Regions from separate parts of the Homo sapiens genome. Here regions 2 and 3 are each linked to region 1. The links come from fine-mapping of genetic effects on gene expression. A gene starts in region 1. Each other region holds a variant in brackets. All regions are shown on one strand. Distances are from middle to middle. Region 1 holds the start of ELK3 (ETS transcription factor ELK3). Region 2 has its middle 41 kb from the start of TRD-GTC2-8. Region 3 overlaps ELK3 (ETS transcription factor ELK3).

The links.
Region 2: its variant is fine-mapped to the expression of ELK3 in whole blood (INTERVAL, PIP 0.97).
Region 3: its variant is fine-mapped to the expression of ELK3 in whole blood (INTERVAL, PIP above 0.99).

What each region holds. Positions count from the first base shown.
Region 1 is chr12:96,190,661-96,197,281 of GRCh38, reverse strand. It overlaps ELK3 (ETS transcription factor ELK3), which reads right to left and starts at 2,907. Exons shown (of 5, transcript NM_005230.4): 1 at 2,577-2,907. RefSeq lists an enhancer at 1,532-1,611 and a silencer at 2,943-3,082.
Region 2 is chr12:96,074,012-96,080,577 of GRCh38, reverse strand. No RefSeq gene overlaps it. Among named protein-coding and RNA genes, the nearest start is that of TRD-GTC2-8, 41 kb to the right of the region's middle. The variant T/CAATAAT (reference allele first, on the strand shown) is at 2,980.
Region 3 is chr12:96,225,707-96,232,327 of GRCh38, reverse strand. The region is part of intron 2 of ELK3 (ETS transcription factor ELK3); the gene reads right to left. It overlaps LOC124902991 (a long non-coding RNA gene), which reads left to right. Exons shown (of 2, transcript XR_007063414.1): 2 at 1-1,044. Among named protein-coding and RNA genes, the nearest start is that of ELK3, 35 kb to the right of the region's middle. The variant A/G (reference allele first, on the strand shown) is at 3,672.

The sequences.
Region 1 (6,621 bases):
CAAAAACATCTCCAGACATTGCCAAATGTCTCCTGGGAGGTAAAATTACTCCTAGTTGTGAACCACTAACGTAAATGAACCTATGTGTCCCAAATAATTACTTAGAAGGAGGAATTCTAAATACTCCCTTTTTTATTTAAAGGAAATGTACTCTGGAGAGAGTTTACAACCTCCATTCTTAAGGAACACTCATGCAAAATGTATGAGATCTCGTAAGTCTTTTTTCTTACCTATTATAAGTTTTGTTAGCCTACTCACAGCTTTCAATGCTACAATTTATTGAGCACCTACTCTGTGAAGGCATAGCATTAGGGACATCCTGTACTCATGTCCACTGACTCATACCCCGGTCGGGCTGTTTGGGCTGTTTTTAGGACAACTTTGCCACCGTAAAAGAACTGCCAACACCTTAAAAGCAACATGTCTTTGTCAATAAAGGGGCCCCATCATTCCAATCAGGTTCCTTTTGACCCTTTTTAGTAACGCCACACATTTCTACGCAACATTTAAATTAAAAAAAAAAAAAAAAAAAAACACTTTTAGAGGGCAGAAGGCCTTTGCTATATTTGGCATAGAAAGGCCATCACTTTTCAAACTCAGGGGGGTTTCTAGGCAGGATCATTACTGGAAACTCTAAGAACACTTATGGACAGTCTCCTTAACTGCCTGACCCATGTGCCCTCCTAACACAATTTGTAATTTTATCATCCTCATAAATTGAAACTCCTAACTGACCTTTTCCAAATAAATGGGTGCCATGGCGAGAGAGAAAGAAAAAGAGATCAGAGGGTATTTTGTAAGGCTCACAAATCGATTTCGGCTCATGAATAGATGCCTGGAACATGCTCCACACCCCCCCCACCCCCAAAGACAAGCACAGATGGAGAAGATGGGTGTGTGTGAGCTGCTTATCTCCCCCCACCTCTCAACACACATACACACGCGGGAAAGAAAAACCTGCAAATCTGAAATCCAAAATGGCCAAAGTGACTTCAAAGTTTTCAAGACATGTCCTGAAAAGGCTCGTTGGGCGGCTGCACCCCTAAGTAAATAAAGCCATAACTTGTCTCCTTCCCCAGCGCCGGGCTCCCAGGCTGACAGTGGCTGCACAAAACCCCTCCTGTGCCGAGCAGCGGAAACTCCTAATGAGATTAGTTGGTGTGTGTGCAGACATTACTTAGCAATGACTAAGGGGGCTCTCTCTTCCTGCAGCAGCCAGTGGAAAATTCAAGGAACTTTTTCCCCCTGCAGCAGCAGAATCCCTTTAACCCTCTCCGCAGCCAACTCCAAAAACAACTCAGCCTCCCCTTTCCCCGCCACCCCCAGGCTGGAGGACTGGGGTGGGGGTAGTTAAAGACCGGCCAGGGGCTTTCAAATGAGGGAGGGTGGGAGGGGGCTGGCGGGGAAGGGGCGGGGGACCCCTCGAACACTACAAAGGAAACTGTAAAAGGCACAAATACATAAACCTAAGAAGGAGCAAACCACAGTTTCTTTGTGAGCTCCTCTAGTGAGTCATTTTCAAGATGCTGTCTGCTGCCAGTTTCAAAGCGGAAGCGCATGGCAATTAGTCTTGCCGTTTCCAGACAAGCCAGAAACTCTCCCGACACTCGTTTTTTTTTCTTTCTAAAAAGCCCCTTTTGCAGTTTCTGAAATAACATTTCTTGCTTCCACCTCCACCCGCCGCCTAACTGCAGCTTGTCCCTAGGATGATTCGGTTCAGAAAAGATAACAAAACCAAGACCTTTTATTTTTGCTTTTTAACTACTCCAAAATCTTAATCCCGCCTCCCCAAAAGTTACAGTAGCGTCACAGGCCAACGTTGAGTTCGAAGGTAAACAGGGATGGGGAGTGGAAGGGGCCCCAAGATCATTTCTTGCCTGGTCCTTCTCCAAAACCATGCCCAATAGAGACCACCGGCTTTTAAATGTCCGATGGGGCGTGCGCCTGGGGCGGTGACCTGGGCGGGGGTCACCTGCCAAGCGAGAGTGGACGCAGCCCCCAGCCCCACACCTTCGCGACCCATGTCCTCCACCGCCCTCTCCATCCCTGTCTTCCTCCCTGGATCCGAGCACCAGTGCACTTTGCCCACTCGAGGGGAGCCTGACTGCGGTCCCAGCTGGAAGGTCGGCGGTGGTCCAGCCTCCAGGCACTCAGCCTGCTCCTGCCACGGTTCTTCCCAGGGACCCGAAGTCTCGCCGTCCCCCGCTCCCCGCGCTGCCTGCAGCGGGGCCCTGGGCGAGCTCCCAGGGTTGCACGCCCGGCGCCCCTTCCTCTGGGGTCGCAGCGCAGCCCCAGGGAGGGGAGCCGCGGGCGCAGGGTCCCCGCAGCCCCGGGCCCGGCGCGAGCTCGGGCGACGGCGGTGGCAGCGACGCGGGCGCAGGAGCATCCGCGGCGCCCCCTCCCCGCGGCCGGCCCTCCCGCGCGGACGCACCGCCACCCCCACCCCGGCCCGCAGCCCACCCCGCGGCGCCCCCCGCCCCACCCCCACCGCGCCCAAGAAAAGAAAGAAAAAAAGAAAACACCCCCAAACAAACTTTTTAAGTGTCCGAGCAACAGGCAGAAGCCCTGTTACCTACCCAGATGTGGGGGAGTCTTCTTCGGGGGGAATTTCTAGGAGGACCCGGGCGAAAGCCCCCGACTTTCCATGCTGACAGGCGTCTGCAGACGGTCTGTGGCTCTTGTAATGAGATCCTGATTTTTCCCCCTTTTTTTCTTTCTCTCGCTCCTCTTTTTTTTTCCCCTCTGGTGTGTGTGAGAGCAGGAAGTTGGAGCAGTCAGGCCGAGCCGGCTCACTTCCTTTACTGCATTATTCCCCAGGCGGTGTGCAGTCTGTGTAAACAGGCTTTTCCGCCCCGCGCCGCGCGCCCCGGCCGCGGCTGTGCGCCGGGGCTGGCCGCCCAGGCCCGCGCCTCCCCCGCCGCCCCGGCCCCGTGCGCGCCCCGCACCGCCCCCACCCGCCCCGCTTCCTGCGCGGCCACCCCGGGGAGGAGCCTCCGACCCGCGGCGACTCCGCGCGGCCGCAGCCCCTCCCCACGGGGAGGGGGGTCCGCCCGCAACCCGCAGAAGCCGCCGCGCTTCCCGGGACACCGGGGATCCCTCCTCACCTCAACCCCTGGGGGTCGAGCGCGCGGGGCACCACGACGGGGTCGTGCCCTGCGCAGTTGGCCCGGGAGGGGGGTCCCGAGGTGGGGAGGCGGCTGGACTCGCTGTTTCCCATCCGCTGGGATGGAAGAGTTGGGGGGCAGAGGGGAATCGAGAGTGGGGTTCAGGGTTTGGTTGCTCTGGGCAAAGGACTGCTTTTCTTGTGGGTGCGGGCACAGTTTCCGTCTGGGGTTGGAGATGGACACCGTTCCTGTCTGGGTTTTCGGTGTTTTAAAAGCCAGCCCTCGGCCGGGCGTGCTGGCTCACGCCTGTAATCTGAGCACTTTGGGAGGCCAAGGCGGATGGATCACCTAAGGTCAGGAGTTCGAGACCAGCCTGGCCAACACGGCGAATCCCCGTCTGTACTAAAAATACCAAAACAACAACAACAAAAACAGCCAGGTGTGGTGGTGGGTCCCTATAATCCCAGCTACTTGGCAGGCTGAGGCGAGAGAATCGCTTGAACCTGGGAGGCAGAGGTTGCAGTGAGCTGAGATCGCCCCATTGCACTCCAACCTGGGCAACCAGCGAAACTCCGTCTCAAAAAAATAAAAAAGCCAGCCCTCAGTTGGGGGGCGAGCCTGTGGGGAAAGGATAAGGAGCCACAACACTGGAAGTCATGGAAATAATGCCCGCAGGGTCAGAGACTGAGGCTTGAAGGGAGCCTCTGTGGTCTCAGAACTGGTCTTCACACCTCCACATCCCTCAAGGAGGTCCTGCCTCTGAGGGCTCAGGCCAGGCTCTGATGGGAGAGCCTGCCCATTGCCCTAGGCTGAGACAAGGTTGGGGGGGATGGCTGTTGAAGAGCCTCTCCCTTCCCAGGCCTGCGCCCCAACCTCACTGCTCACCTTCCAGAACCTTCCATTCCCATGCCGCCACTTAGCAGCCCAGACCCCTGGTTTTCAAACTTGACCCAAGGGGCTTGTTAAACCACTAGTGGCTGGGCCTCTCCTGGAGTCCCAGATTCAGTAGGTCGGGGGTGGTTCCGGGCCCCGGCTAATGTCAGAATCACCTGGGGAGTGTTTTGACACTCTCCAACAATATACTCAACCCAGGCCAATTAAGTCAGATTCTCTGGGGGCCGGGTGTGAGTCCTTTCAAAAGGACCACATTCTAAGAGTTCCTCCACTACGTTTGTTTCTAGTTTTGCAGTCTCTCCTGAAAGATTATTTTGTTTACAAATTTCTCACTGCCATCAACTGTGAGCTGCTAAAGGGCACGGGGTATGTTTTACTGATTAGTACCACATCCCAGCTCCAAGTGCCTATCAGAGCACACAGGTGATAGGAATTTCCTTCGGGCATTTGCTTCAGGGCTCCTGTGGGTAGTCCACTGGAAAGGGTGGGAGAATGCCCTCCAGACCTCTGAGAAGGAGTGGGAAACCCGTGGGGTGTAGGGTGGGGGCACGGTAGGAGAGTGGGGCAGAAGGAGAAGATATGGAAAAGAGGGCTGCTTATCAACCCCTGATTTCCCACAGCTAATTTTCCAATTAGGGTATTATTGTTTTAATCCCCAGTCATCTTCTTCTGTCACTCAGTAGAACACCTATGGTGTCCCTATATGATCCAGCTGTTGGACTGAGAGAATGTAAACTTATTATCCTCAGGGAAAAAAAAAAAATCCACACAGTTAAGAACTCATGTTGCTTTGCTTTAGGAGATATATGCCTGAAAGAAACCGGTCTGAAAAGGCTATGTTCTGTATGATTCCAAACTATATGACATTTTGTAAAAGGCACTATGGAGATAGTACAAAAGATCAGTGGTTGTCAGGGGTTAGCAGGGAGGGAGGGGTGGACAGGAGGAGCACAGAGGGCAAGGAAACTACTACTCGGTATGATACTATAATGGTGGACACATTTGTTAAGACCCACAGAATATACAACACCAAGAATGAACTCTAATGTAAACCATGGACTTTGGGTGATAGTGATGTGTCAATGTAGATTCAATTACAACAAAGGTACCACTCTGGTGGGGGATGTTGATGATTGGGGAAGCTGTACACGTGTCAGGGCAGGAGGTATATGGGAAACCGCTGTGCCTCCTTCTCAGTTTTGCTGTGAGTCTAAAATCACTTTAGGGTTGGGCATAGTGGCTCACGCCTGTAATCCCAACACTTTGGGAGGCCGAGGTGGATGGATCACCTGAGGTCAGAAGTTCGAGACCAGCCTGGTCAACATGGTGAACCCCCATCTCTACTAATAATACAAAACTTAGCCAGGTATGGTGGCAGATGCCTGTAATTCCAGCTACTCAGGAGGCTGAGGCACGAGAATTGCTTGAACCTGGGATGTGGAGTTTGCAGTGAGCCAAGATCAAGCCACTGCACTCCAGCCTGGGTGACAGAGTGAAATTGTGTCTCAAAAAAATTTAAAAAAATAAATCACTTAAAAAAAATAGTGAAAAATAGTCTAGGGGCCAGGTGTGGTGATACTACTCTCACCTATAATACCAGCTACTCAGGAGGCCAAGGCAGGAGGATCGCTTGAGCCCAAGAGTTCACACTCCAGCCTGGGCAACAAAGTGAGACCCTGTTTCTTTTTCTCTTTTTTTTTTTTTTTTTTTTTTGAGACAGAATCTCACTCTGTCACCCAGGCTGGAGCACAATGGTGCGATCTCTGCTCACTGCAACCTCCACCTCCCGGGTTCAAGCAATTCTCCTGCCTCAGCCTCCTGAGTAGCTCGGATTACAGACACGCACCACCATGCCTGGCTAATTTTTGTATTTTTAGTAGAGACGGGGTTTCACCATGTTGGTCAGGCTGGTCTCGAACCCCTGACCTCGTGATCTGCCCACCTCGGCCTCCCAAAGTGCTGGGATTACATGTGTGAGCCAGCGCACCTGTTCAACCCTGTTTCTTAAAAAAATAAAAAATACATACACAAACATATGAAGTATATGAAGTCTGTTTTTTAAAAAAAGTATATTCAAAGCCAAACATTTTAATTCAGTGATTTTTATGCTTTTATTTTTGCACAATAAATCTTTGTAGAATCCTAACATGTAAGGGAGCATGTTTTTGTCAACCAGTTTTATTGTTTTGAAGAAATACCTCATCTAAAACACTTCTGACACACTTTTGGGCAGCTTTAGGGTTTCCCAGCCCATATGAAATCCTGATAAGTTTCTCTGGTATTTTGGATTGTCCACACGACTACTCTCAGCTCCTCACATGCATGGGTGATTCAGAGCTGACTCTGGTCTTCCTCAAAGCACAGGGCATAGCTTTTATTTTCAGGTGTCGGCAGCTTCTGTTCTTTGCATTCTAAGAGAAAGCTGCTATTTGTTTTCCATGCTTTCCTTCCCACTATCAAAAAGCAGCCAAGGCCAGGGGAGGTGGCTCATGCCTATAATCCCAGCATTTTGGGAGGCCGCAGCAGGCGAATCACTTGAACCCAGGAGTTCAAGACCCGCCTGGGCAACATGGCGAAACTCCATCTCTCTACAAAAAAATACAAAAATCAGCCAGGCATGGTG
Region 2 (6,566 bases), 120 kb after region 1:
ACTGCAGACTCCACCTCCCGGGTTCAAGCGATTCTCCTGCCTCAGCCTCCTGAGTAGCTAAGATTACAGGTGCACACCACCACGCCCAGCTAATTTTTGTATTTTTAGTAGAGACAGGGTTTCACCATGTTGGTCAGGCAGGTCTCGAACTCTTGACCTCAGGTGATCCACCTGCCTCGGCCTCCCAAAGTGCTGGGATTACAGGTGTGAGCCACTGTGCCCAGCAAGGCTGTCTTCTTATAAAGACACTGGTCATATTGGGCTAGGTGCTCACTCTTCTGCTGTATGACCTCATCTGAACTAATTACATTTGCAATGGCCCTACTTCCAACTATGGTTATGTTCTGAGGTACCAGGGGTTAGGATTTTAACATCTTTTTTGGAGGCTGGGGGAATAACTTGACCCATAACATTGCTCTTATGGAGCTTATAGTCTAGAAAGGAGGCATACATTAAATGCATCATCACACAATTAAAGATGAAAATGTCATTAGTAGTTAAGTGCTCCAACAGTAACAAGAACAACAAGAAATCGTAACAGGTGGACTGGACGTGGTGGCTCGTGTTTGTAATCCCAGCACTTTGGGAGGCCGAGGCAGGTGGATCTCCTGAGCTTGGGAATTCGAGACCAACCTAGGCAATATGGCGATATCCTGAGTCTACAGAAAATACAGAAATTAGCTGGGCATGGTGGAGTGCGTCTGTAGTCCATGCTACTGAGGCTGAGATGAGAGAATCACTTGAGCCCAGGAGGCTGAGGCTGCAGTGAGTCAAGATCGTGCCACTGCTCTCCAGTCTGGGTGACATAGTGAGACTCTATCTCAAAAAAAAAAAAAAAAAAGAAAAGAAAAAAAAGGAAGGCTGGGCGTGGTGGCTCAGGCCTGTAATTCCAACACTTTAGGAATCCAAGGTGGGTGGATCATGAGGTCAGGAGTTTGAGACCACCCTGACCAACATGGTGAAACCTCGTCTCTACTAAAAATACAAAAATTAGCCGGGCGTGGTGGTGCGTGCCTGTAATCCCAGCTACTCAGGAGGCTGAGGCAGGAGAATCTCTTGAACCCGGGAGGCAGAGGTTGCAGTGAGCTGAGTTTGTACCACTACACTCCAGCCTAGGTGACAGAGCGAGACTCCATCTAAAAAAAAAAATCGTAACAGGAGAAGCTAAGCCATGGTTGAAGGGGGTGGTCAGGAAAAGTTTCTCTGAGGAAGGAACATTTAAGCTGAAGCCTGGAGTGTTCCTCGGGGGGAGAGCAACACCGAAGGGGGCCCCAGGCTGAGGAGAAATTTGACAGAGGTATATTAATACATAAGAGACCCTCCAAAAAGGTTCTCAGAAAAGCTGAGAAGAAATAGAGTCTCTCTCTGTCACTTTGGTAATCTTAATGGTCCCAAACAGTTGTGTGCAAGAGGAAAATTCAGTTACTGAGTCTACCAAAGAAGGAAGGCCTGTCTTATTATTAGGTTCTCCTACTACATAAGTGGTTGTTTTGTTTAGTCTTTTTAAGGACCATGTTGAATGAGCCAAATTACATTTATATTCTTATTCCTTTGGGATCTGGACAAGTCTGCCAGATTTCTGGATTAGCAAAAATTGATTCGAGTGTATGATTTCAGTTAGCGGCTGCTGGGATCACTGTGAGTTTTCAGCATGACATTGTTTAGTAAGCAAACCTCTGAAAGTATGCTTTTATATCTATCAGTCCCCTCCCCAAAAAGCCTCCAAAACCCAGCTATTCTAAAGGGAGTTAAGACTTCCTAAAGCAGTAGACAAAGAACTGAGTGTCAGCTCCTTGGTTGAGTTCAAATTGCCTCCGACAGCAACTGGGCTACAGTATGTGGCACACATTTTCAGAGCCAGACGGGGAGAGGGGGTGGGTTGGTTCCCCCTGGAAAGGCTGTGCTGTGGCTGGGTGGGGTGGGAAGTTAGCCTCCCTTTTCAGGGACAATGTGTCCCACCCTATGCCGGATAGTGGCACATCACAGCTCAGCCTCCCAATTTCACCCACTGGCCTCCGTTTCCCATGTCATCTGAGGTCAGAGAGGTCCAAGCCAACAGAGGTGACTCCGCAGCCTTGCAGGAAGCTGAAGCTGTGAGAAGAAGGATATGCTGCTCCATGCACACCCCCGAGGAGCTGTCCACGGACGGGCCAGGGCTGCTTCCGGGCCAGCGTCCAGGTCTGCTGCTGAGGGCCAGGTGGTGTTGGAGTTGGCCGACTCTCCCTCCTCCATCACATTTTCCAGGAAGGGGTGGCTAGGGACCGGTGGTAGGTGGGGATATTGTCAGCAATGAATGTTGGTGTTTTTGACCAAGAGCCAAAGTATTGTGTGTTTCGGGGGTCTGGCAGACTGCCTCCGCCCAGGGAGACATGCATAACGAGCCTGCCGTCCCAGCCTATAGCACAGTTGTTTGAACTTCGCAGGGTAGGATGGGTGTGGGTGTGTGGTTCTCACCATGAGGATCAAGCCCCCCCTCTTTTTTTTTCCCCCCAACTCCTTTACATCTTTAAGTAAATGAAGCAAAGGAACTGACTGGTGGACTTGAGGAGTGGAAAGGGGCTGTTTATTACCATTCTTGCCAGTCATTTCCCAGGGTTAGAAGTCAACAGAGAGTTCTTTTCTTCCTTTCGTCCAGTATTTGAGTTTAAGTCTTAACAGAGGCAAGTGGGCATTAATAATAGTTGTCCAGGCCAGGCGCAGTGGCTTACACCTGTAATGCCAATGCTTTGGGAGGCTGAGGCAGGAGGATCACTTGAGCCCAAGAGTTCAAGATCAGCCTGGACAACATAGCAAGACCCTATCTCTCCAAAAAATTTAAAAATCATGCAGGTGTGGTGGCACGAGTCTGTAGTACCAGCTACTCAGGAGGCTGAGGTGGGAGGATCGCTTGAGCCCAAGAAGTTGAGGCTGCAATGAGCCATCATGTCACCACTGCACTCCAGCCTGGGTGACAGAACAAGACACTGTCTCTAATAATAA[T/CAATAAT]AATAATAATAATAATTTAAAAGTCCAGTTTGGCACCATGGGCATATAATCTGGCCTTGTTGGGTTCCCGTTTATAAAAGATCTCCCTGCTGTGGGCTGACTCCTTCCTCACATAGCCCTCCTTGGCCTGAGAAAACCCAGGAGAACAAAGGTGGGAGGAAATGTCAAAATCCAGAAGGGCCAACTTCTGAGCAACTCCGGGAAGTTTTCTCCCAGAACCAGGTCCTGCCCGCAGAGAGCTCTTCCTAAGGAACCGGGTTGCTGAGGAGTGGGTGGAGCTCAGCACCTTTCACACTCCATTGGATCACAGCCTGTTTCCATTAGGAAGGTTGGATGCTGCAGCCCGTTTCCCACCTGGTGTAAATTGCAGGGGCTACCGCTGCCACCAGCAGGGTATCAGCAAATAAAACCAGGCCTGAGGCCATTTGTTACAAACTTGAGGCTTGTGGTATTTGAAGCTGCACAGTCATTTGGGAAACTGAGTATTCCACAGAGGAAAAGGCTGGTGGGGCGGTGCATGTCCCAGAGGACACAAAGTGTTCTCCAAACCCACAAAGTCTGAAAATCCATCAGTAGAAATTTCTAAAATTTCAGAGATGCCAGATTTGGCTAATCAAAATTCAGGGTGTTCCATTAAGTTTGAATTTAAAATAAAGGAGGAACACTTTTTTTTTTAAGGATAACTATGTCCCAAACATTGCATTGGAGGACATACTTATGCTTACAAAGTATTTGTTCTTCCTTGTATGATGTTGGTGAGAATGTAAATTAGTATAGCCACTATGGAAATGAGTATGGAGGTGTCTCAAAAAATTAAAAATGGAACTGGCATATTGCTATGGTTTGAATATGTCCCCTCCAAAATTCATGTTGAAACTTCATCCCCATGGTGGTGATATCAAGAGGTGGGACCATTTGGGGAGTGATTAAGTCATGAGGGCCCCACCTTCATGGATGAGATTCAGGCCATTATAAAAGGGCTTGAGGGGGAGGCTTTACTCTCATCTTCCTTCTGCCACAAGGACACAGCAACAAGACGTGATTGTGGAAGCAGAGAGCAGTCCTCATCAGATACCAAATGCTGGAGCCTTGATCTTGGACTTCTGAGCTTCTTCAACTGTGAGAAAATACATTTCTGGCCAGGAGCGGTGGCTCACGCCTGTAATCCCAGCACCTTGGGAGTCTGAGGCAGGTGGATCACGAGGTCAGGAGATCGAGACCATTCTGGCTAACACAGTGAAACCCCGTCTCCACTAAAAAAAAAAAAAAAAAAAAAAAAAAAAAATTAGCTGGGCGTGGTGGCGGGCGCCTGTAGTCCTAGCTACTCAGGAGGCTGAGGCAGGAGAATGGCATGAACCCGGGACGTGGAGCTTGCAGTGAGCAGAGATTGCACCACTGCACTCCAGCCTGGGCGACTGAGCGAGACTCCATCTCAAAAAAAAAAAAAAAAGAAAAAGAAAGAAAAGAAAGAGAAAATACATTTCTGTTCTTAATCAATTACCCAGTGTCAGGTATTTTGTGGTAGCAGGACAAATGGATGAAGGCACGTGCAATCCAGCTACCCACTACTGATTGTATATCCAAAGGAAATGAAGTCAGTATGTCAAAGAGATATCTGTGTCTCATGTTCATTGCAGCATTATTCACAGTAACCAAGATATGGAATTAAAGTAAGTGTCCATCATGGATGTATGGATAAAGAAAATGTATATATACAATGGAATACTATTCAGCCTTAAAATAAAAAGAGGAAAATTATGTCACTTGTGACAACACGAATGAACCTGGAGGACATTGTGCTAAGTAAAATAAGCCAGGCACAGCAAGACCAAAACCACGTGATCTCACTTCTGTGTGGAATCTAAAACAGCCCAACTCATTAAAACAGAGTTGAATGGTGGTTACCAAAGAATGGGTTTGGGGAGATGTTGGCCAAAGGATACAAAATTTGAGTTCAATAAAAGGAATAAGTCCAAGAGATCTATTGTACAAACAATGACTATAATTGATAACAATATATTATATACTTAAAAATCACTAAGAGAATAGATTTTCAGTGTTCTCACCACAAAAAAAAGTATGTGAGGTAATGTATATGTTATCTCAATTTATCCTTTCCACAATGTATACATATTTCAAAATATCAAGTTGTACACCATAAATATATACATTTTTACTGGTCAATTACAATTTATTTTCAAAAGTACTTGTTCTTTATCTAAAACTTACATTTAACAAAGCATCATCTATTTTCTCTGACTACCCCACCCCAGGTACAGAATGCCTCCGGAAGTTTCTTTATCTTTTCTTTTTTTTTTTTTTTTGAGACAGAGTCTCGCTCTGTCACCAGGCTGGAGTGACTTGATCTTAGCTCACTGCAACCTCTGCCTCCCGGGTTCAAGGAATTCTCCTGCCTCAGCCTCCCGAGTAGCTGGGACTACAGGCGCGCACCATTACACCCAGCTAATTTTTTTTGTATTTTTAGTAGACATGGGGTTTCACTGTGTTGGCCAGGATGGTCTCGATCTCTTGACCTCGTGATCTGCCTGCCTCAGCCTCCCAAAGTGCTGGGATTACAGGCGTGAGCCATCGTGCCTTGCCTGCCTCCAGAAGTTTCTACTGAAGGCAGAGGTGAAAGGAAACCCGCTGTGAATGCTGACGTCTTATTCACTAGTCTTTGAACTCTTCTAGGGGCTGGCTGCCAGACTCAAAGCATTGTTTGCTTATGGGATGAACGTCTTAATGCAGGGAAACTGAATGGCCAGTTGTCATCAACCCAACCAAAGGGACTCCGCAAAAAAAGTAATGTTGTTGTTCTGTAATAGGTAAATGTCAGATAGTTCTATTCTCAATGGCAAGCTGATGAAGCCCACCCCAGTCCACACACTTTCTCTCCTGTTCAGAATCTGTTGCTAGGTGGGTGGCTCGGGCTGTTCTTCCTCTCCCTTCCTTGTTGCCCTCTCAGCCTCTGCAATGGGGCTGTGAGGAGACCAAACCCCATCAGCTCCTCCTTGGTATTTCCTCATTCCACCATTCAGAGCATTTCCCTGAACCTGTTTGCTGAGCATCTGGGCAAATATTTGGTGGGGAAAGTGATTTAATTTTTTTAATTGAGGTGAAATTCACATAACATAAAATTAACCTTATTTTTTTTTTTTCTGAGACAGAGTCTCACTCACTCTGTTGCCCAGGCTGGAGTGCAGTGGTGCAATCTCAGCTCACTGCCTCCTGGTTTCCAGTGATTCTCCTGCCTCAGCCTCCCGAGTAGCTGGGATTACAGGCACGTGCCACCATGCCAGGCTAATTTTTGTATTTTTAGTAGACATGGGGTTTCACCATGTTGGCCAGTCTGGTCTTGAACTCCTGACCTCAAGCAATCTGCCCGCCTTGGCTTCCCAAAGTGCTAGGATTACAGGCGTGAGCCACCGTGCCTGGCCAAATTAACCATTTTAAAGTGTACAATTCAGTGGCATTTGGTACATTCACAGTATTGTGCAACTTCCACCTCTATGTGGTTACAAAGCATTTTCTTCGCCCCTAGAGAAAACCCTGTACCCATGAAGCAGTTGGCTGTCAGCAATTTAAAT
Region 3 (6,621 bases), 35 kb before region 1:
AAGTGCTGGGATTGCAGGCGTGAGCCACCGCACCCAGCCAGCTTTTAACTTTTCATTGGCTCTCACCACAGAGTTCCAACCCTTTAGCATGATATACTCCACACTCCATTCCCCACTCACTTTTCCAACCACATCTTGCCCTCACTCCCAAGATACTCTGTGCTTGAAAGGTCAAACTCATCCACACGTCCCTGCCTTTACTCACACTGTTCCCTTCTTGGTATATCCCTTCTAACTTTTTTCAGCCGGGTAAACTCATTCTCATTCCTTAAGATCCAGATCAAGTGTCTTGACCTCCGGAGGCCTTCCCTCTGCCTCTACATCCCTCCCTGCTCTCCCAGAAGACCCCAGCATTGGCCATGCCAGCACTTTACACGGGGTTCTCTACTAAAATTGGTTTCATGTCTGTCTCCCCAACCAGCTGCTGAGCCCCTCAGGAGGAAGGAGGTATGTTTCCAAAGGGATGGCTGGATGGCTGAGGAAAAGGCAGAGGTGAAAGAAGAGGCCGTGTCAACTGGAGGTGGATGTATAATTAAAAACCCTAGGCCAGGTGCTGTGGCTCATGCCTGCAATCCCAGCGCTTTGGGAGGCCGAGGCGAGCAGATCACCTGAGGTCAGGAGTTCGAGACTAGTCTGGTGAAATCCCATCTCTACTAAAAATACAAAACCTAGCTGGGAATGGTGGGACGCACCTGTAATCCCAGCTACTCGGGAGGCTGAGGCAGGAGAATCACTTGAACCTGGGAGGCAGAGGTTGCAGTGAGCTGAGATCGCGCCACTGCACTCCAGTCTGGCCAACAGGAGTGAAACTGTGTCTCCAAAAAAAAGCCTTATTCAAGAAGTGGTGAATGCTGTGAATCCCAGCAGGAATTCCTGCCCCTCAGGCTTGACCCATAAGGTGCCTGGCAGTTGTCAGGGCCAGTGACAGAAATGCTCTGGGCATGGGCCCCGCTCTTCTCTACTCTAAGATGAAGGGTCCATCTGTCTGATGTTAAGGAGTGAAAGACTTGTTAGCTTGTTAATAAATAAAATCTCTGAAAAAGATCCTTACTGTTACATCAGGTTATAAAACTACCTTCTGGAAGACTCAGTTTAAACCTAAGGAAAAAAAAACTTATCCAAAAATTCACACCATCAGAACTACAGTAACAAACCTATCTCCTAGGGCTTAAAACAAGACCAAGGGAAAAAGCTGTTTGACAGAGAGGAAGTGTAAAATGCCCAGGCCTCAGTTAAATGTCCTGTTTAGGCCTCTACGGACTCTGGTTTCTGCCCCTCACGGGCTCAGCCACAGGCACCTCCCATGACCTGTGTGTTTCTCAAATCAACAGGGGCCTTTCATCCATACCCGGGTTGCAAAACATGCCGCTCCCTGGATGGGGCATCACTCCTTTCTTGGAATTATAATTGGGTTTGCCCCGCAGCCTCTACAAAAGCTTAACTGGGGAAAGCAGTTCCCTGGTGGAGCTCGGATGCGGAACCCTGGCCCTCCAGACTTTCCCCACACCTGCGTCACGTGCACTCCGCACAACTGTAGATGCAGGAAGGAGCCTCTGAGCACAGTGATCAGAGCCTCCGATCCCAGCACTGCCAATCCGGGATTGGCGCCCCCAGGGTCGCCTTTTCTTCCCATTTAAGTCATCTATTAAAATCATGTGCACTTCGAGACCAGGGAGCTGCTCAATTCCCAGCAACTCTGAATCCCTCCAAGGCAGGACTCCTCTTGGGTGGACCTGTCTCCACCCTGGGGACTTGGCTCAGCGATGTGTCTTTGATTCTAGTGTCACACCTGTCACGGAGTCTAGTGTTTATACCTGCTGCAGAATCTAGGTGCTGTGCCTGTCATGGGGAGCAGTTTCCTTTTAGGATTTGCTGAATCGAACCATCACTTATAGAGGGAAACCAACACTCTCCTTTTAAGTATAATTTTAAAAATCTAAACAAAAAGCCCAGCAGTGTCTGAAATACAGTCATGCATCACTTAACGATGAGGCTACGTTCTGAGAAATGTGTCGCTGGGGAATTTCGTTGTTGTGCGAGCATCATAGCATGTACTTGCACAAACCTGGAGGGTCTAGCCTATCACACACCAAGGCTATGCTATATGCTCTCAGGCTACAAACCTGTACAGCACGTTACTGTACTGAATACTGTATGTAGGCAACTGCAATATAATAGTAAGTATGTATGTATCTCAACGTATCTAAACGTACAAAAGGTACAGTAAAAATATGGAATTATAGTCTTATGGGACCGCTGTTATATACGTGGCCCACTGTGGACCAGAACATTATGTGGTACATGACTGTATATGGAGGTGTTACAGAGTGAATTTTGTCCTTCCCCAAACTATGCTGATGTCCTAATCCCCAATACCTGTGACTAGGACCTTATTTAGAAAGGGGTCTTTACAGACGTAACCAAGTTAAGATGAGGTCATAATGCATTAAGGTGGGCCCTAATCCAATGACCGGTATCCTCATAAGAAGAGGAAAATCGGCCAGGCACGGTGGCTCACACCTGTAATCCCAGCACTTTGGGAGGATGAGGCAGGCAGATCACAAGGTCAGGAGTTCAAAACCAGCCTGGCCAACATATTGAAACCCCATCTCTACTAAAAACACAAAAATTCGCCAGGTGTGGTGGCACATGCCTGTAGTCCCAGCTACTCAGGAGGCTGAGGCAGGAGACTCCCTTGAATCTGGGAGGCAGAGTTTGCAGTGAGCTGAGACCATGCCATTGCACTCCAGCCTGGGCGACAGAGCAAGACTCTGTCTCAAAAAAAAAAAAAAAAAAAAAAAAAAGGAAAATCTGGACACACAGAATGGGGAGAACGTCATGTGATGATGGGGGCAGCGATCCGAGTGAGGCTGCTGCAAGCCAAGGCACGCCAGGGACTGCTGGCAAGCCCGGGGCTGGGGAGAGGCCAAGAAAGAGTCCACCTGAGTCAGAGGGAGCACAGCTCTGCTGACACCCTGGCTCTGGACATCTGGCCTCCAGAACTGTGAGACAACACATTTCTGTTGTTTTAAGCCACCTACAGTTTGTGGTCATCTGACCTGGCAGCCCTAGGAAACTACGGGACAATAAACAAAAAGCAGTGACTACTTTTATTTTTTAGTTTATCACTCATTAATATCAACTTTCATGACATAAATGGTGTGCACTTGAGTAGTGGACACATCAGTGTTTTATCCATTTGTTCACTCGTCTAGCATTTACTAAGCAACTAATACATGCCAGACCCTGTCCGAGGTACCAGAGCGACAAAAGTGGTGCATCCAGAAGGCCACGATGAAGTCAGCTATATACAGACAGCTACGACATAATACAGTCAGTTTTATAAATACACATAACTGGAATGAGGAGCCTTCACTGAGTAGGTGCCTGACACTGTGCTAAGCACCTTATCCGCGTCATCTTATCTTCTCTTTCCATCCTCACACAGTCCGACAAGGAAGGGTGCTGTTCCCATCACCACTTTCCAATGGGTGAACTGAGACGCTGAGGTTGAGGGACAGCTGGACTCTTAACCTCGAGGGCTCTGGATACAAAGCTCCCACCAGTCACTAAGACAGTCCAGAAGGTGGAGACTGGCTCCAACTGCAGGTGCTCAGAGAAGTGCCAGAGCTTTGATTCAGAGCGGTGAGGGAGAGTCATTTAAATAAGAA[A/G]GCATCTTCACAGCTGAATTTTCAGAACAGATTAAATATATGAAAATAAGCAACTGAGGAAAGAAACTGTTGTCATCTGTCTTCAGTCATTAAAAAGCACGACAAAGTGCTCCTGATAGGTCCTAAGTGAAAAGGGCCATAATACTCAGATCCGGCGTTTCCCTATCTCCATGTGCCTGAGCAGCAACGTAGCAACAAAGGTTTTGATCTTCTTTTTTTTTTTTTTTTTTTTTTTTTTTTGACACAGAGTCTCACTCTGTCGCCAGGCTGGAGTGCAGTGGCGCAATCTCGGCTCACTGCAACCTCTGCCTCCCGGGTTCAAGCGATTCTCCTGCCTCAGCCTCTGGAGTAACTGGGACCACAGGTGTGCACCACCACGCCCAGCTAATTTTTGTATTTTTAGTAGAGACGGGGTTTCACCATGTTGGCCAGGCTGGTCTTGATCTCTTGACCTCATGATCCACCCACCTTGGCCTCCCAAAGTGCTGGGATTACAGGCGTGAGCCACCATGCTCGGCCTCTTCTTCTTTTTTTTAATAAATTGTGCTAAATTTTTTAAAAAGAGACAGGGGTCTCACTACGTTGCCCAGGCTGGACTTGAACTCCTGTGCTCAAGTGATCCTCCCAGTTTCTAATTTTCTTCTTTGCACTGTCTGCAATGTTCAAATTAGTGATAGAGAAACTGTCATCTGTATTATTATTCTGACTCATGCTTCATTGTGCCTACCCTGTTTGGGGCCCTGTTCTCAGCCCTGCACACGTGTGAACACAATGAATCCCACCACAGCCCCACAGTGTAGACTCTACTATTATACCCACTTTACAGAAAAGGAAGCTGAGACTCAGAGAGATTAGGCAACACGGCCACAGTCATGGAGCTGGATTCAAACCCAGACGATCTAGGCTGGAGCTCACTCTGTAACTACCTCGTTATTATAATCTGAGAGGGGAGGAAAAGAACACTCTGAGGAGGAGCAATGATCAAAGTGCCTCAGCCCCAACCTGACCGCATGGGCACAGAGATGACCCTCCTCCGGGGCCTTTCTGACCGCATGGGCACAGGGACGACCCTCCTCCGGGGCCTTCCTGACAGCATGGGCACAGGGACGACCCTCCTCCGGGGGGCCTTCTGCAAGTTTGCACACATTTTCCACTTTTTTCTCTGCTAAAAATATAACATATAACATATAAAAATAATGATATTCTCATGCTTGTCTACTCAAGTGGGAAAAATTCCCTATTAGGACAAACCCAGGGATGTGCAGTTGAAGCCAAGAGGGAAGAAATGACAGCTAGCAAAGGACAGAAGAGATGATGGGAAAAAGGACGCAGCTGCCGAGTTCAGCAGCTACCTGATTTCTGCACTGAAAGGCTCTGGATGAATGTTAGTGAGGAAGAGGAGGAGGACACCGAGAAGGAAGAGAACACTAAAAGGCAAACGGTCAGGCCGAGCTGTACGTGACACTGAGAAACGCACGCGGTTCAGGGCAGCTTGAAGTTCAGGGTGGCACACACGGCAGTGGCCCAGGTGGCTTTGCATCCACAAAGACTCTGCTCCAATCTGTCTCTCAAGCAAGAGGCCGAGCCACTTCAGACTGCCATTTCTGTGAGTCGAAAACGGTCACAGACGGGCAATGCACACAGTCAACTTACACCTATCATCACAGAGTGACACTGGCAAAACGGAAGGAAGAAAGAGGTCATCGGAAAATGTCAAATAGAGTGTAGTTTTCGTCATCTCTTTTTGACATGCCTCCTCTTCTTCCTCCTTCTCCATCCCCTCTTTTTTTCCTCTCCCCTCCATTTCCCTCAACCATCTCTTTTCTTCTTATCTTCCTCCCCCTCTCCTTCTTTTCTTTTTAAACTGTATTAAGAGTCTAACTTTCCGTCTTGCTCATCACTTGAGAGCATTTTATAAGCAAGAATTAACCAGCCATGCGTGCACATGTACATGTATGCGTGTGCACATGTCTGTGCATATGGCAGTGGCCACGTGTGCATGTGGATATGTATGTGCAAGTGGGTGTGTGTGCCTGTGTGCATGTGGGCATATGTGTGTGTGCATGTGGACATCTGTGTGTGCATGTGGGCATGGGTGTGCACATGTGGACATCTGTGTGGACATGTGGACATCTGTGTGGGCATGGGTGTGCACATGTGGACATCTCTGTGTGCATGTGGACAGGTGTGTATGTGTATACTTGTGTGTGTGTGTGCATGTGGACAGGTATATCTGTAGAAGGAAAGACATGGAGCAATTTCTTCTGGTGGCCAAAGTCTACATGATACAACAGGATAGGAGGCTGCTCCTGCCCTTACTGCCAGCTCCAGCTTGATGCCTGGGGCTGCTCAAAGGTCATGTGGCCAGCCCCCATGCTCTGCCTGGCAAGAGAGAAAGGGGCAGTGCAGGCAGGCAGGCCACACCAGCCACCTGGACTCCTGACCTTGGGCTCTACCTGATACACATCGTTTGCTGGGATTTTTCAGTACTGAATTTGTTTCTTTCCTTTTTTTTTTCTTTTTAAGAGACAGGATCTCCCTCTATTGCCCAAGCTGGAGTGCAGTGGTGCAATCAGAGCTCACTGCAGTCTCAAACTCCCAGGCTCAAATGATCCTCCCACCTCAGCCTCCCAAGTAGCTGAGACTACAGGCATGCACTTCCACACTCGGCTAATTTTTAATTCTTTGTTGTGACAGGGTCTCACCATGTTGCCCAGGCTGGTCTCAGACTCCTGGACTCAAGTGATCCTCCTGCCTCAGCCTCCCAAAGTGCTGGGATTAGGTGTGAGGCACTATGCCCAGCCTGAGGCTCTTGGTAATAAACAAAACTTCTTAGGTTGTAATACCCTTTGGACAGCCTGACTGCCTACCTGGAACTCAAGACACTCAAAGGCAAAGGAAATGAATGGCCCAGAAGGCAGGGTGTGTGTGTGCCTTTTGGCTGGGAACC